Linked DNA regions of Homo sapiens: region 2 is linked to region 1. The links come from fine-mapping of genetic effects on gene expression. Tissue or cell type: whole blood. Region 1 holds a variant in brackets; the other region holds the start of a gene. All regions are shown on one strand. Distances are from middle to middle.

What was found. PIP is the estimated chance that this variant, and not a neighbour inherited with it, causes the effect.
Region 2: PIKFYVE starts here. The variant in region 1 is fine-mapped to the expression of PIKFYVE in whole blood (TOPMed, PIP above 0.99).

What each region holds. Positions count from the first base shown.
Region 1 is chr2:208,239,681-208,247,787 of GRCh38, reverse strand. It overlaps IDH1 (isocitrate dehydrogenase (NADP(+)) 1), which reads left to right. Exons shown (of 10, transcript NM_005896.4): 5 at 2,364-2,469; 6 at 4,184-4,361; 7 at 5,643-5,794; 8 at 7,785-7,925. Among named protein-coding and RNA genes, the nearest start is that of IDH1, 11 kb to the left of the region's middle. The variant C/T (reference allele first, on the strand shown) is at 4,984.
Region 2 is chr2:208,263,152-208,271,258 of GRCh38, reverse strand. PIKFYVE (phosphoinositide kinase, FYVE-type zinc finger containing) reads right to left here and starts at 5,004. Exons shown (of 42, transcript NM_015040.4): 1 at 4,844-5,004. It also overlaps the pseudogene MYL6BP1. RefSeq lists enhancers at 1,283-1,784, 5,118-5,167 and a silencer at 4,718-4,987.

The sequences.
Region 1 (8,107 bases):
TTCACACCTGTAATCCTAGCACTTTGGAGGCCAATTTGGAAGCACTGCTTGAGGCCAGGAGTTTGAGACTAGCCTGGACAACATAGCAGAACCCTGTCTCTACAAAAATGAAAAGTATTTCAATAATTATGTCAATTGTTCATGGAAGAGCCAGTTTTGTTTATTCATATACAAAGTGAGTAGGCGAAGCTGAGTGGGGTGGCATGTGCCTATAGTCCCAGCTACTTGGAAGGCTGAGGCCTGAGGATCCCTTAAGCCTAGGAGTTCAAGGTTACAGCTATGAGCTATGATCACACCACTGCCTACGCAACAGAGCAAGACCCTGTCTCGAAAAAGAAAAAGAAAAAAAAAACTGACTCGGTAGTTGAAAGCAGCCTTACTAAAGCATTCCTTCCTGCCTGGAAAAAAAGTATTGCTTCTTTACTTCTGTACCAGTACACTTGTTGCCAAATTAAGCAAAAAAACTGCCAAGTAAACAAAATCAAAGTTCAGTGTTGAAACTGAGGTTTCAGACTTTCACAGAAAGTAGTTTATGTCTTAAAAGGACCTTAAAAACAGGAATCTCTCATGCTGAAATCCAGAGGTTTTAATGTAGCCATCATTGAAAACAGTGTGTTGAGGGTAAACAGTTTAGTCCTTGAGGGGTCAGTTAACTTTGTTCCACTCTGTGGCTAAAACTATCCTTTCATCCTGGCCAAAGCCTTCAGAAATAGCTCCCAGGGGCCCAAGCAAGGGAAGGTAGATGGCAGTGGTGCAAACTCGCTAATCTTGTAAAAATCACCCTAGATTCTTTCCAGTTCAGTCGTGCCTTTTTTCTGCGTATATCCTTTTTGTTTTTTGTTTTTGAGACAGAGTCTCGCTCTGTCGCCCAGGCTGGAGTGCAGTGGTGTGATCTTGGCTCACTGCAACCTCTGCCTCCCGGGTTCAAGCAATTCTCCTGCCTCAGCCTCTTGAGTAGCTGGGATTACAGGCACATGCTACCATGCCCGGCTAATTTTTGTGTTTTTAGTAGAGACGGGGTTTCACCATGTTGGTCAGGCTGGTCTCAAACTCCTGACCTTGTGATCCGCCCGCCTCCGCCTCCGCCTCCCAAAGTGCTGGGATTACAGGCATGCCACCATGCCCGGCCTTCCTCTTTTTTTTTTTTTTTTTAATTATTTTGGCATCAGTCATTTGTAAAAATGGCCATTCTATTTATTAAAGTCCAGAAAGAGAATTTCAAACCTCAGGTTGATTCATGGACTGTTTAAATATACATAAACCTATACAAAGCATTTATGGTGCTTTGGTACCTCAGTTTCTCCCTTTTCAGAAATAGTAATAAATTACCACCCATATTTACTTTATGGATTTTATATGTCAAAAATGTTCTGTGTAAAGTAGGTGTTTAATCTTTATTGTTACTTACTGCTCTTTTACCAGTTGTTATTAGTATTTCTCTACACTTATAGATGTGGCCGGCACCTGCTGGTACCTAACTCTGCAAGTATCTGATTCAATTCATTGAAGAAGATACAATGCAGCAAAGACTTATGGATGTCTAGTATATGCCAGGCATATTATTCCACTGAGTAGCTGAGGCCCATGAGGGAGGTGCCTGTCCTTGAACAGCCCTTTCCTAAAAATCATCATCATCCCATTGTAGCTGCTCCCAGAATGATTTGATTGCTCCATATGAACAAGTCCTATAACACTAGTAACAATGATACCATGAGAGACCGAGCCCCGATGGCCTAAGTAAGGACGAGACCTCAAGTCCTTTGACCCTGGATGCATTATTTCTACTATATCATAGTTCCCTCCTTGTAAGACTGATGTAAGAATCAAATGAGATTATGCAAGTTAAGCATTTAAAGCATCTGGCATAGAGTAAGGACAAAGCATTAGCTACCTCAGTACTACAATTAGTATTGTTATCATCACCCTCTAGGGAGACTTCCCTGACTTCCTTCCATGGTCACCTCTTTTCCTCTGTCATCCTATAGTTTTTTTTTTTTTGGGGGGGGGGTCTAATACCCTCTTTTGGCATTTGAAAGCTCTTATATTGCTTTTCACTTATATATGTCTTTATAGGGTTGTAAACTTCCTAAAGGAAAGTGGCTTATGTTATTCTCTGTCCTCTTCAAATCAGTGCTCAGAAAACTTTCCTATACCTCGTATAGGCACCTAATAAATATTTACTGATTTAGGGGAATGTCTGGACCTCTTCATCCCCATCTCCTAAAAAAAAAAAAAAAAAAAGAAGTTTGACATACTGCCCTATTTGTCTAGGTGTCTTCTAGGTCTATATTATATGAATATTCTCCTTACAATTCCTGCTAGGGTATTTTTTTTTTCTTTATACCTTTTTCCCCTCTACACAGTACAGAGCAACTGATTTTGTTGTTCCTGGGCCTGGAAAAGTAGAGATAACCTACACACCAAGTGACGGAACCCAAAAGGTGACATACCTGGTACATAACTTTGAAGGTATGTATGACTGTAGCATAAGCTTCTTTTTTTTTTAAACAAATGATTTAGATAATATTTTTATTGCTTTTTTTGTTAGTTATGTGACTGCCTAAAAATATAATCTGAATCTACAGTGTTTTTGCAAAACCCGAAACTTGACATAAAGAAGTAATTTGCTTCCATACCTTCCTGTGGCATGAATAAAGGCACAAAAGGGTTACCCACTTAATTGGAAATGCCTTTAGGCAAAGACAAGGAGATGATTATGCATTTATCTTAAAGCACAGAGAGAAGGTTGGCAGAAATCTGCTGTGCATGAATTATATACATTAAATATTAATATTCTCAAATCACCCAGCATATAATCCTGCCCTTTGCTCTGGTAGGGCTCTTGTATCTGGAAGAGGTTTCCTTATATATTTGCTGAAGTTTTCTTCTTGCCCTTCTGGGTATTTATCCTGTGAAAAAGTAGAACATTTGCTTTTTGCCTTTTCTTTCCCAGCTACCCTGCTACCTTTGATGGCAAATCCCACCCAAAAGTTGTTGAAATAATTAGTGGGCCCTTTTCCTTCACTATTGAAGTTGTTGAAAGCACTCACACAAACAAAAATACCCAACACTCACCTACCTTTTGTTTTTCTTGCCTCTTCCAAATAATATCTGTTGGAATCTGGTTCTGCAGGCTTCAGCACCTTTCACCCTGAACCCAAGTTAACCCTGAGCATTGGCATGGATTCAAGTTCTATCTTTAAGTAATAACAAAGTTCAATAATAGTTGTAAAACACAGTGATTACATGTAGCATAATTATTTCTACTTATTTCTACCAACTACAGTAGGAGTGCTCAGTATCCTCCAGGAGATTATAAGAATTTTCATTCAGTATTTGAAATTTAAGTTTTTCTCAATAACTGAGGATTGAGTACACCCCTAAAGTTTAAAATAGATGTTGGGAATTGTAAAGGTAGGGTGTTTGTCCATTCTTGCGTTGCTATAAAGAAATACCTGAGGCTGCGTAAGTTATAAAGAAAAGAGGTTTAATTGGCTCATGGTTCTGCAGGCTGTACAAGCCTGGCTCCAACACCTGTTCCTGGTGAGGGCCTCAGGAAGCTTCCAATCTTGGCAGAAGGCAAACAGACAATAGGTGTATCACATGGCAAGAGCGGGAACAAGAGAAAGAGAAGGGGGAGGTCCCAGACTCTTAAACAACCAGATTTCAAGTGAATTAACTGAGCGAGAACTCACGTAATCACCAAAGGGGATGGTCCTAAGCCATTCATAAGGGATCCAACCCCATGTTCCAATCTCCTCCCACTGGGCCCCACCTCCAACACTGGGAATCACATTTCAACATGAGATTTGGAAGGGACAAATATCCAAACCATATCAGTATGTAAAAGAAGTTTCAAAATTATTTGCCTTTTCTTAAATGTATTTCTGGTTCATATCAGTTTTTGGCATTTCTGCATCTTCAGGATTTTAAAGACTGTATGTTTTTTCATTTCTGCTGTCCTTCCAAAACAAGTTAGAATGTCCTTATCTAGAACTGGCTTTTCTCTCATTATGTGCCTCAGAAATTTGTTGGAAACCTGTCTGGGACTTCTGAAATCTAGTCTCAGATGTGAGAGCTGAGAAGTAGGTCATTTGGTTGTGGTGGGTGATTTTAGCCTTATTACAACTACATTACATTTATTCTTCTCCCTTTTTTCCTCTCACTGGCTTCTCCTCTACAGAAGGTGGTGGTGTTGCCATGGGGATGTATAATCAAGATAAGTCAATTGAAGATTTTGCACACAGTTCCTTCCAAATGGCTCTGTCTAAGGGTTGGCCTTTGTATCTGAGCACCAAAAACACTATTCTGAAGAAATATGATGGGCGTTTTAAAGACATCTTTCAGGAGATATATGACAAGTAACTATAGTTCTTTTTTAACTTTTTCTTTATTCTCAAGTAAGCTGACATTTGCATATAGAGTATGTATCTCCCTATCCCTATGATTCTGGGTAAATTGAGTGAAAATCATCACTGTCTCTTAAAGATAAGGGCAAAACTGAGGTTTAGCAGGAGTGAAACAAAACCACTCTGACTTGCTTTTATAAGATAAACATGTTCTTAAATAAGGTCCCCACATGAATTGTTTTCAGAGCCAGGTTCTTTAATGTTTAAATAAACGTACGCTGTTAGTGATAAGTTCTAATTTTTCATGTGTGAGTTTCTAAGTCAGACCCATTTCCATTCTTTCTGAAGCCCATTGTTAGAATTTAAAATTCTGTTGGCCAGGCACGGTGGCTCATGCCTGTAATCCCAGCACTTTGGGAGGCCGAGGCGGGCGGATCACGAGGTCAGGAGATCGAGACCATCCTGGCTAACACGGTGAAACCCTGACTCTACTAAAAATACCAAAAATTAGCCGGGCGTGGTGGCGGGCGCCTCTAGTCCCAGTTACTGGGGAGGCTGAGGCAGGAGAATGGCGTGAACCCGGGAGGCGGAGGTTGCAGTGAGCCGAAATCACGCCACTGCACTGCAGCCTGGG[C/T]GACAGAGCGAGACTCCGTCTCAAAAAAAAAAAAAGAAAAGAAAAGAAAAAAAAGAATTTAAAATTCTGTTTTAGTGGAGTCATTTGAACTTAAGTCTAAGTTTATAACAACACTGGCTTCCACAGCACAGGAGGTGAGCATGTGTTAATATTTAAGATTGGCATAACTCCCTTTAGGTGCAAGTGTTCAGGCCAAAATGTTCCTGAGGCATTTTGATTCCTCCTCCTGCTGCCCATCTATACCAAGCCCAGAAACTGTCTGGAATATATTTTAGTTTCCTGAATGACACCAAGAAGTAGAACAGTCTTTTCAAAAATGTATTTTAAAAATAAGCTGAATCTCAAGAATCTGATCTATAGTATAATGAAAACTGAAAAGTGAAGTAGTCATTGGGATACTCTACTGTCTCACTTAATTCTCACGGCTTCCCTGCAAGGTGGGTAAAATTGTTCCTACAGATAGTCAAATTGAGTTTTACAGTTAGAAAATGATTGGGCTAGGATTTGAGCCAATGTCTGTCAGATTCCTGAGTTTCTGCTACTTCTACTAAAATATGCTGCTTCTTGTGTGTCCGGTCTTCTGTTTGGGACAAGCAGATGATATCCCTAACAAAATCAATTTTCTTTATTATTATTCTCTTTTACCTTTTGTTTCCCAGGCAGTACAAGTCCCAGTTTGAAGCTCAAAAGATCTGGTATGAGCATAGGCTCATCGACGACATGGTGGCCCAAGCTATGAAATCAGAGGGAGGCTTCATCTGGGCCTGTAAAAACTATGATGGTGACGTGCAGTCGGACTCTGTGGCCCAAGGTACAGAGGTGGAGCCTGGCCTGTAGGAACAGGGTCATTCCAGGGTAGTTCTCTAATTTGGGAAGGGGAGTTTTGTAGTCCTTTGTTGTAAAATCTTGGAATGTTAAACCTCCAGGTCCACCGTCTTACCTGACAGCTAAGGAAATTAAGCTCAGACTAGAGAAATGATTTACTCAAGACCACATGGGAAGTAAATTAGTGGATTGACACTCCTGGCTCCAGTGTCACTCCTTGAAGTTTTAAAGCCTACCTGATCTGAAAATCACTCCCTTTCCCTGCCCTCCTTGTCCTTTGGTGAAAATGTAAAAAACCAGGGCACTCAGGCAAGGAGGGATAAAGTGAGGAGCTTGATCATGTCATAACCAAGCTTTGGTGCCTGCAAAGCTCATTTATTGGGCAGCAGGACCTACTCATGTCCCTCTGCCAGCTGCTGTTCTGGTAGAATATAAAACAAATGTGTTTGGCTGGGCACAGTGGCTCACGCCTGTAATCCTAGCACTTTGAGAGGCCAAGGCAGTGGATCACTTGAGGCCAGGAGTTCAAGACCAGCCTGGCCAACATAGCAAAACCCCATCTCTACTTCAAAAAAAAAAAAAAAAAAAAATTAGCCAGGTGTGGTCGCATGCCTATAGTCCCTGGCACTCAGGAGGCTAAAGCATGAGAATTTCTTGAGCCTGGGAAGCGGAGGTTGCAGTGAGCTGAGATCACGCCACTATACTCCAGCCTGGGCAACAGAGCAAGACTCTTGTCTCAACAACAACAAAGAAAAAGTGTTTTTGTTTACTGCTTAGCTTACACACAAATCAATTGAGCAAAGAACCCTAGGGGCTGTTTACAGAAATTCCAGGAGAAGTTTCATGCATGGGGTAAGGGCCAAATCAACAGAAACACAGCGCCTGGTTTCCTCAGCACCAAGTTGCCCTTCAGTTTCAGTTGCCCTTGGTAGCTGTATGAACTTGAATCTCCCCAGATGAATGTTTGTTAACTTTAATTATGTTTGTTTTTCCCAAGAAGTACTACTTTTTCTGTCTCTTATCAGTGTTAAACATCTCCTCTCAGTTTGAAAATCAGTAGATCAACCTGGTTAAAGATAACTTTTTGCCAGATAAATGAGTTACACAACTCTCCTTACCATCCTTCTGTTTCTCTACATCCTCACAATCATTTGTACTGAATGCAACAGAGGAAGGAGTGTTATTGCTTTGTGATGACTCCGTGGTTGATTATTAACTTCACAGGTGATGTTGGGAGGTAGCAAAAATGGAGAAAAGAAGAAAATCAATTATATAGATATAAGAGTTGTAATGTGGTTCTTTCAATAAGAAACCACAGAAGAGAACTGTTGTACTGAGGGTATGAAAGAGAGCGAGGAAGGGCAACTGGGATGTTCTTAGATCCAACCGATCCTGTGTTTACCTGCCTTCTCTTCCCAGTCCCAGCAAGTGTATGAGCAGCTTGAGGGTTCTTAAGAGACAGCTCTCGTCCATCTTTATTTCCCCAGAACAGCAGAGCATTGCACATAAGAATAACAATAATAGATTGAGCTCTGTGTCCAGTACTATTCTAAGGAATATAAATATATATTCATATATATTTATGAATATATGTATATTTATCTAATCCCACAGCAACCTAGTGAAGTAGGTGCTGTTATTACTCCCATTTTACAGATAAGAAAACTGAGCCGCAGTAGCTATGAAGTCATAGAACTAGAGTGGAATGTAGGCAGTTGGACCCTGAACCCTCCATCAAGGAGTAGGTATCCCTGAAATAAGTGAGGGGAAAATGCAGCCTTTCCAGACCCATTGGCTCTGATATCTGGAGCGGGGATCCTGCCTTCTGAAAGGCAGAATTATTGGTGATTCCATGTGCTCTTGTTTACTTTGCTTACCAAGACCTATCAAGATTGAGTCATTTATGCTCTCATCTCTGAGAGACTCAGTGCTCTTCATGCAGTTGGACCCAACGCTTCATGCTCCACTACTTACAGGGTATGGCTCTCTCGGCATGATGACCAGCGTGCTGGTTTGTCCAGATGGCAAGACAGTAGAAGCAGAGGCTGCCCACGGGACTGTAACCCGTCACTACCGCATGTACCAGAAAGGACAGGAGACGTCCACCAATCCCATTGGTAAGATGGTGTTTACATTGATTTCTCACCAGAGAGTGCTCTCCAAAGCAGCCCAGATGTGTTCCCTTGGCTGCTCAGTGTTTTGTGTGCAAAGTCATCACCAAGTAGCTGATTTGTTCTACTAGTAAGATCTATTTGAATATGCTTCTTAAAATATACAATATTTGCTTTTCTGTTTTGTG
Region 2 (8,107 bases), 23 kb before region 1:
AAAAGATTTAAATTAATAAAAATTTGGAGGTAAAGCATTAATGTGAGCAGGCAGAAGAAAAATAAGCATTTTCACATCATTTCTAGCTCTTTCATTTTAAGATGTTTCGGAAGAAGGGATACACAACAGCTTTTTAAAGTTATGGGGGGAAGCTAGTTATACAACACACACATAAATTCTTCAGTCTTATTTTCCTTATTTCAACTTTTTTTTTTTTTTTTTGGAGATGGAGTCTTGCTCTGTCGCCCAGACTGGAGTGCAGTGGCGTGATCCTGGCTCACTGCAACCTCCACCTCCCAGGTTCAAGTGATCCTCCTGCCTCAGCCTCCTGAGTAGCTGGGACTATAGGTGCGCAGTCACCACGCCCAGTTAATTTTTTGTATTTTCAGTAGAGATGGGGTTTCACCATGTTGGCCAGGCTGGTCTCCAACTCCTGACTTCAGGTAATCCACCCGCCTCAGCCTCCCAAAGTGCTGGGATTACAGGCATGAGCCACCATGCCTGGCCTCAACTTTTATATTTTAAAAAGTAATATAAAAATCATTATATTTCTAAGACGAGGACATGAAAGTCATTCTCTAATGACATGTCTACAAAACTTTAACAATTACCTCAAGCTACACTTCATGACCTATGACAACTACTCAAATCAACAAGTTGTTCCCCACTATCTTTGCTCCTAAACACATGAACCTGGTTTTTCCTCCCTTTAAGCCTCAATTCATAGACATTAAGATGAAGATCTTCTTAAAGGGCTTTGTTTCTAAATAACCAAAAAATCATATTTCAACCAAAGCAATAAAGCTAACCACATCACCAGATGGAAGTTACAGAAAAGTACTATTTTCTGCCATATTGATTTATATTTCAAAGAGAAGAACCATGGATAACTCTAATCATTAAAATAATGTAGACTGGTCCAGGCACGGTGGCTCACACCTATAATCCCAGCACTTTGGGAGGCCGAAGTGGACGGATCACCTGAAGTCAGGAGTTCGAGACCAGCCTGGCCAACATGGTGAAACCCCATCTCTACCAAAAATACAAAAATTAGCTGGACATGGTGGCGGGTACCTGTAATCCCAGCTACTCAGGAGGCTGAGGCAGGAGAATCGCTGGAACCCAGGAGGCGGAGGTTACAGCGAGCCGATCACGCCACTGCACTCCAGCCTGGGCAATAAGAGCAAAACTCCATCCACAAAAAAAAAAAAAAAAAAAAAATACTGTAGTCTGGCCCAGACACGGACCCTGCAAGAGATGGGTGCCCCCATCCGCACACTGTCCTTTGGCCACCAGACATCATGCCTCCCAAGGATATTCTGGGAGGAACCAGCAGGGCCCTCCATCTCCAAAGGTGCTGCCAAGCCAGCAGCAGCATGGGCCCCTCCAGCCAAGACCAAAGCTGAGCCAGCTATCCCATCCCCCAGGCCCCTGAGAAAACCAAGGAGCCCCCAGTTGATCTCTCCAAAGTGGTGATCAAGTTTAACAAGGATCAGCTGGAGGAGTTCAAGGTGGCCTTCAAGCTGTTTAACTGAGTGGGGGATGGCAAGATCCCATACAGCCAGTTTGGGGACATGATGGGGGCCCTGGACCAGAACCTCACCAGTGCCAAGGTGATGAAGGTCCTGGGGAACCCCAAGAGTGATGACCTGAAGTCCCGGCATGTGGACTTCAAGACTTTCCTGCCCATGCTCCAGGCAGCAGCCAAGAAGCAGAACCAAGGCACATATGAGGACTACCTGGAGGGGCTTCATGTGTTAGTCAAGGAGGGGAACAGCAAAGTCACGGGAGCAGAGCTCAGACAAGTCCTCACCACCCTGGGAGGGAAGATGGCTGAGGAGGAGATGGAGACTGTTCTGGCAGGACATGAGGACAGCATCAACTAGGAGGCCTTCCTGAAACACTTCCTAAGCCTACTGAGCTCTGTAGATCCCTAGGGCCCAGACAATGGGCCCCCTGCAGGCAGAAGCATGTTCCAGCCACCAGGAGGCTACCTACTGTTTCAAAATAAAGACAAGGTTCCTCCCTTGGAGAAAACAATATATATACTATAGTTTATAATCTAGTCTCCACTTTACAAAGAGGACATTACAGTCTCGGTAAAATGCTTTTCACATTCAAAATCATAGCTACCATCTCATTTTACTCTTACAATCCTGGAAGGCACACACAGCTGGCTTTATGACATTTTACCTTTGAGGCAACCAAGGTACTCTGAACCTAAAACAACTTTCTTGGGGGTCACACAGACATTAGTAGAACTGTCACTATACCCCAAGTCTCACCCCAAAAGTATTACCTAAATCAAAATTACTTTTGTAGCTCTTCACACTTCCCTTTTAGCCTATCCGCGTTCTCTAACTACTTAAGGCTTTGTCTGATCAATAATTTAATTAATAAATTAAGGCAGAAATGAAACCACTGACTTAAACAGAATTTTGGCAATACATGTTTATTGGGGGGGGAAGAAAAAGAGGAAGAGGAAGGGGAAGGAAAGAGGAAGGAGAAAAGGAAGAAGAAGGGGAAGGAAGGTTTCTAATATCTTCCACTGAGAATAATCATCAACAATCCTTCTGAAGTGTCATGACAATTCAGCAAAAAGTGTTGGGAAGTAAGCTGATAACTGAATAAGTATACACTCAAAAAAAAGTTTGTGTTTTTTTTATATTAAAAAAAAAAAGAGGCCAGGCACTGTGGCCTCATGTCTGTAATCCCAGCACTTTAGGAGGCTGAGACGGGAGGATCGCTTGAGGCCAGGAGTTCCAGACCAGCCTAGTCAACATAGCGAGACTTCATCTCTATTTTATTTAGGGAAAAAAAAAAAAAAAAAAAAAAGAGCTCTGGAGAGAAACGATAATGTGATGGCCGTAACAACCACCCCTGGAAAACAGCCTACATTCTACTTTGACACAAGTAATGTCAGAGGCAGAGATGACATTCTGCCTAAAGAGTCTTAGAATTACTTCTAAAGGTTATCTACACAAAAATTATACTCGGCTTTGGAAATAAGAAGATAAAAATTCCCATGAAAACACTTAGCAAGTGTAGTCTCTGAAATATAAACCCAATCATATAGTTAACCCTAATAATTACATAATGACACTAGGGCCCTGAAAAAATTATCTTATAACTCTCACTCTTTAGCAGCTTAACAACGCTTTAAAATATAAATTAGGACTCTTTCCTGAGTGGTAATCAGTCCTATTAACCTACCTACCCAAAGCCTTCTGATATATCACCAATACTTCACCATTTCTAATTAAGGCTACTAATATATGCAGACCTACTACAAACTATCAGAAGCCAGTCAGTAAAGGCCGGACGTGGCTGCTCACACCTGTGATCCCAGCACTTTGGGAGGCCGAGGCAGGAGAATCCCTTGAGCCTGGGAGGCGGAGACTGCAGTAAGCCGAGATCACACCACTTCACTCCAGCCTGGGCGAGGGAGGGAGACCCCCGCCCGGTGGCTCACGCCTGTAATCCCAGCACCTTGGGAGGCCGAGGCGGGTGAATCGCCTGAGGTCAGGAATTCAAAACCAGCTTCGCTAACATGGTGAAACCCCGTCTCCCCTAAAAATACAAAAATTAGCCGAGTGTGGTGTCGCGCGCCTGCAATCTAGCTACTCAGGAGGCTGAGGCAGGAGAATCGCCTGAACCCTGGGAGGCGGAGGTTGCAGTCGGAGGAGATCGCGCCACTGCACTCCAACCTGGGGGACAGAGCGAGACTCTGTCTCTCAAAAAAAAAAAAAAAAAAAACTGGCAATGTAATAATTTAGGAAAGCTGAATATTGGAAATGTTAGCTTCTATCAACAAAGATTTCTTGTTCAATTTTTGACCAACACGCTTAAAGGAAAACCAGAGCAGGATCCAGAAAGCAGAAAAAGGGAGAACACAGGAAATTAGCCTTGCTCCACAGAAGAGATTTAACCTACACAATCTTTGTCACAAACACAAAAGAAAGAACATTTTTTGTAAGAAAACTGACAGAGTGGGAGTTTTGGAGTGCCAAAAAAGGGGCTCAAATAAATCAGAAATAAGTACATTATACCAAGCGACTACCTCTATTGTCAACACTGGACATATTTTACAACACAGGATGCACTGCGTCAATAGTAGATAATGAATCATGTATACACATCAGATACACACGAATAACTTGCTTTATACAGAATTCTAGCACTTCTTATATTTCTTGACTGTCTTAGGAATAACCTCTGATTGGGCAGAAAACCCCTAAGTCCTAAAAGTTTCCAACACATTCCATTCTCATCCTTTTGTTGGGAACATTCTAAGCAAAGGGTAAACACTAATTGGGAAATAATGCTCCTCCTCAAGAAACTCCAAAACCTAAGTTGAAATGGAATCGTCTCAAATAGCAGAGGCAAGCATTTAAAAAGACAAACACTTATTTGAACCCCCACGGTTGGTATCGTTTCTGCAGCTCATGAACTTTCTTTTCCAGCCTACGGATGCGCCTCTGACAAACTCAGAACTCATGCACTCAGAGGGAAAAGTAACTGTACTCTTCCCCTCCTAATTAAGTTCAGGCGTAAGGGTCGAGAGAGAGGCAAAGGAACTTCAAATGTTTCCAAGGAAATCTCAAGGGCCCCACCCGGCTTCCGTCCCCACTCGCCAGACAAGGCAGCCGGGGAATAGGGAGGACAAGCTAATTCTAAAGCCAGATTCTCTGCCCTTCCTTGCTCAGCCGGCAGCCAGGCCCTAGCCCCCGACTGCGGAGCCCTGGTTCTCACTTTCACCTCAGCTCTGGCCCTGGAGCTCCCCATACCGGCCTCCTTCCCATGCTGAGCCCCAGCCGGCCAAGCTCCAGGCCCCCTCCCTTACCTGCGCCTCCTGCCCCGGCCGCGCCGGCTGCCCCCCGCCCCAGCCTCCGCTTCAACGGCTCAGCCCCCGGAAGTCGGCCCCCGAGAGCGGCGGTGGGCTCCTCAGGCCGCGGACGGTTGCGGCAGGAAGCGAAGCTGCTTACATGGTTGATGCGGCTTCTCGCTTCCCCCCCCCAAGACTCCGCCCTCTGTTTTCCTGTCCCCCAGTCCGAAATCTTTCCCGGGGGCCGGCTCCTCCCAGCCCGGCCGACGCTCGGATCAGATGCTCAGGCAGAAGGAGTCCAGCCCAGATCGAGTCGTCCTGATCTTTTGGCCGAGATTAGGCCGCTTCAGCCTTCCTGGAAGAAGCCAGGGGGACTGCGCGCGTGAGCGTCACGCATGCGGGGTCAACGGATGGGTGCTTGGTGCTCTGGGCACTGCAGGGGTGCTGGCTGGACTGCGGTTACCGTATGTGTTCGATACTGTGGGCACTCATAATATGTTATTGCTTTGTTGTAGACAGTTCACTCGTGTAGCACTGAACCGGAGTTAGCGATGACTCTGTTTCCAGACTTGCATGACTCCACCAATAACCAGCCATATGATCTTAAGCAAATTGCTCATTTATTTAGGCCTTAGACCTCTGGTGTGTAAAGTCGGATTAATAAAAGGACTCACTTCTTAATACTTTTTTGAGATTAAGTAAATGCACTTAAAGCGAATGGCACAGTTCCCTGACCCAGAGTAAGTGATGTCGGCTTTATAGTTAATTTTTTCATTTAGGTGTTGTGTTGCAAATGCTGATGCAAATAAAGTTACCAAGCCCAAGCCCTATCTTGTTCAGCTTGGCTAGAGTTATTCGTCATTTCTGTCCTGCTGAGAGCGCAGTGCAGTTAACTGCAGAAAACATGCTCGCCGCAGTTGTGGGGCTTGGTAGGGGAGGATGGAAAGCAGACGAAACCTAAAGGGAAATGCAGTTTTAAATTCTGTGAGTCCTTTTCCTCAAGAGTTTTGTCAAATCCCAGCCCAGTTTTCCTGGAGTTGGAAAGCACCATCGAAACCTGCAGGTTGAGTCCAGTGCAAATCCCAGTCACCATCCTCAGCTGGGCCCTTCAGCAATCTTTCTGGGAGTCTGTAGTCAGCTTCTCCCATTCCTTATTACTGCTGCGTCAGACCACCACCACGACCCCCACATTACCTTGACCATCATTCTCATCAGAGAATCATATTTTATACCCACGTGAAAAATCCCAAGGTATCTGGGCGTGACCCTTAACAAGCTAATTCCCCACACACCACAACATTTACCTACATCCACATCTGCCCTGGTCTGCCTTTCTCCCTCATCTCTCTGAGGAAGGGGCCTCTTCTTCCCCAGCTCAATCCTTTTGGCCCCCAATTCACCCTCTCCTGTCTGGGAGCTTGCACCGTATCTGCAACCTCCCCTTTTCCAATGACTCTGCCTCCTCAGCCCATAAAGATGCTCAAGTCTCTGCCTTCCTTTAAAAAAATTTTTTTTAAAAATTTAAGATAAGCAAAAAAGGCCCTCGTAATTATCACCCTATGTTAATATTTCATAAACCTACAATAAAGTATGAAATAGGTACAGAGATCATATGAAAAGAATAAATTGCCCAGCCACGACGACTGCAGTGTATGTAGAAACTCCATCTATGGTTTAAAAAAAAAAAAAAAAAGTGCACTCCGCAAATATTTTTGAGTCCCTAATTTAACCTGCAGTGTGTTAGTTATAGAAGCACTACACTAAGGATAGAATTATGAACGTATCCCACTGCTTCACTTGACTAGCCTAAAAAATAAAAATATATGTGAACATTACACAGTCCATGTCCTCAAGAAGCTTACCGTCTAATATCTATATTAGCTTACAGTTTAATTTCTGTGGAAAAGAGATTGAAAACTGGGCTACTGTTTTTGCAAAAGAAATCATTTTAGATTCTCACTTCACACTAGACATCCAAAATTAATTCCAGATGAATTTTATCTGTAGAGAGATTATTTGTCTGTGTATATATCCTCCTCAAAAACTTTCATTCAAGCACAGATTTAGGATTCTTGCTGAATCAATTATTGTTCGATGATATTATACTTCTATTCCTCTGTATGTATTAGTTGAATTTTACTGCAACTAATAGCGTTCCATCTTTTTCTTTCTTTCTTTATATTGGTTAGTATGACTTTGGACTCATTTTTTTCCAACATGTTATAGTTCATTACTGCCACTATTCATTTCTGTGCTCCAGGTGTCCCCGCCTTGGCTGGTGTGAGCCCCTTCCAGCAGACTCCTGAGTCCATTTGACATGCCTCCATTACCTTTTGAGCACATCTTACTTTTTGTTCTTTTTCTCTCTCCGCCACCCCTTACCCCTGGCAACCACCATTCTACCCACTACTTCTATGAGTTCAACATTTTTAAATTCCATATATATGAGATCTTGTGGTATATTTCTGTGTCTGGTTTATTTCACTTAACATAATGTCCCCAGGTTCATCCATGTTGTCACAAAAGACAGAATTTCCTTATTTTTTAAGGCTGAATAATGTTCCACCGTATATATATACCACATTTTATTTTATTTTTTTGACATGGAGTCTGTCACCAAGGCTGGAGTACAGTGGTGCAATCTGGGCTTACTGCAATCTCCACCCTCTGCCCCAACCCCCCCGACCTCCACCCCACCCCTATTCTCCTGCCTCAGCCTCCCGAGTAGCTGGGATTACAGGCGCCTGTCACTGCACCTGGCTAATTTTTGTATTTTTAGTAGAGACGGGGTTTCACTGTCTTGGCCAGGCTGGTCTTGAACCCCTGACCTCGTGATCCACCTGCCTCAGCCTCCCAAAGTGCTGGGATTACCGGCGTGAGCCACAGTGCCCAGCCCCACATTTTCTTTATTCAGTTGTTCATTGATGGACACTTAGGTTGATTTCATATCTTGGCTATTGTGAATAATGCTGCAATAAAGATGGGAGTGCAGATACCTCTTAAAAATAGTGATTTTGGCTGGACACGGTGGCTCGCGCCTGTAATCCTAGCACTTTGGGAGGCCAAGATGGAAGGATTGCTTGAAGCCAGGAGTTCAACACCAGCCTGGTCAACATAGCAAGACCCCATCTCTATAAAAAGATTTTTTTTAATTTCAATAAAAGAAAAAATAGTGATTTTATTTCCTTTGGATATATACCCTGTAGTGGGATGGCTGGATCACATGATAGTTTTATTTTTAAATTTTTTGGCAACTTCCATACTGTTTTCCATAATGGCTGT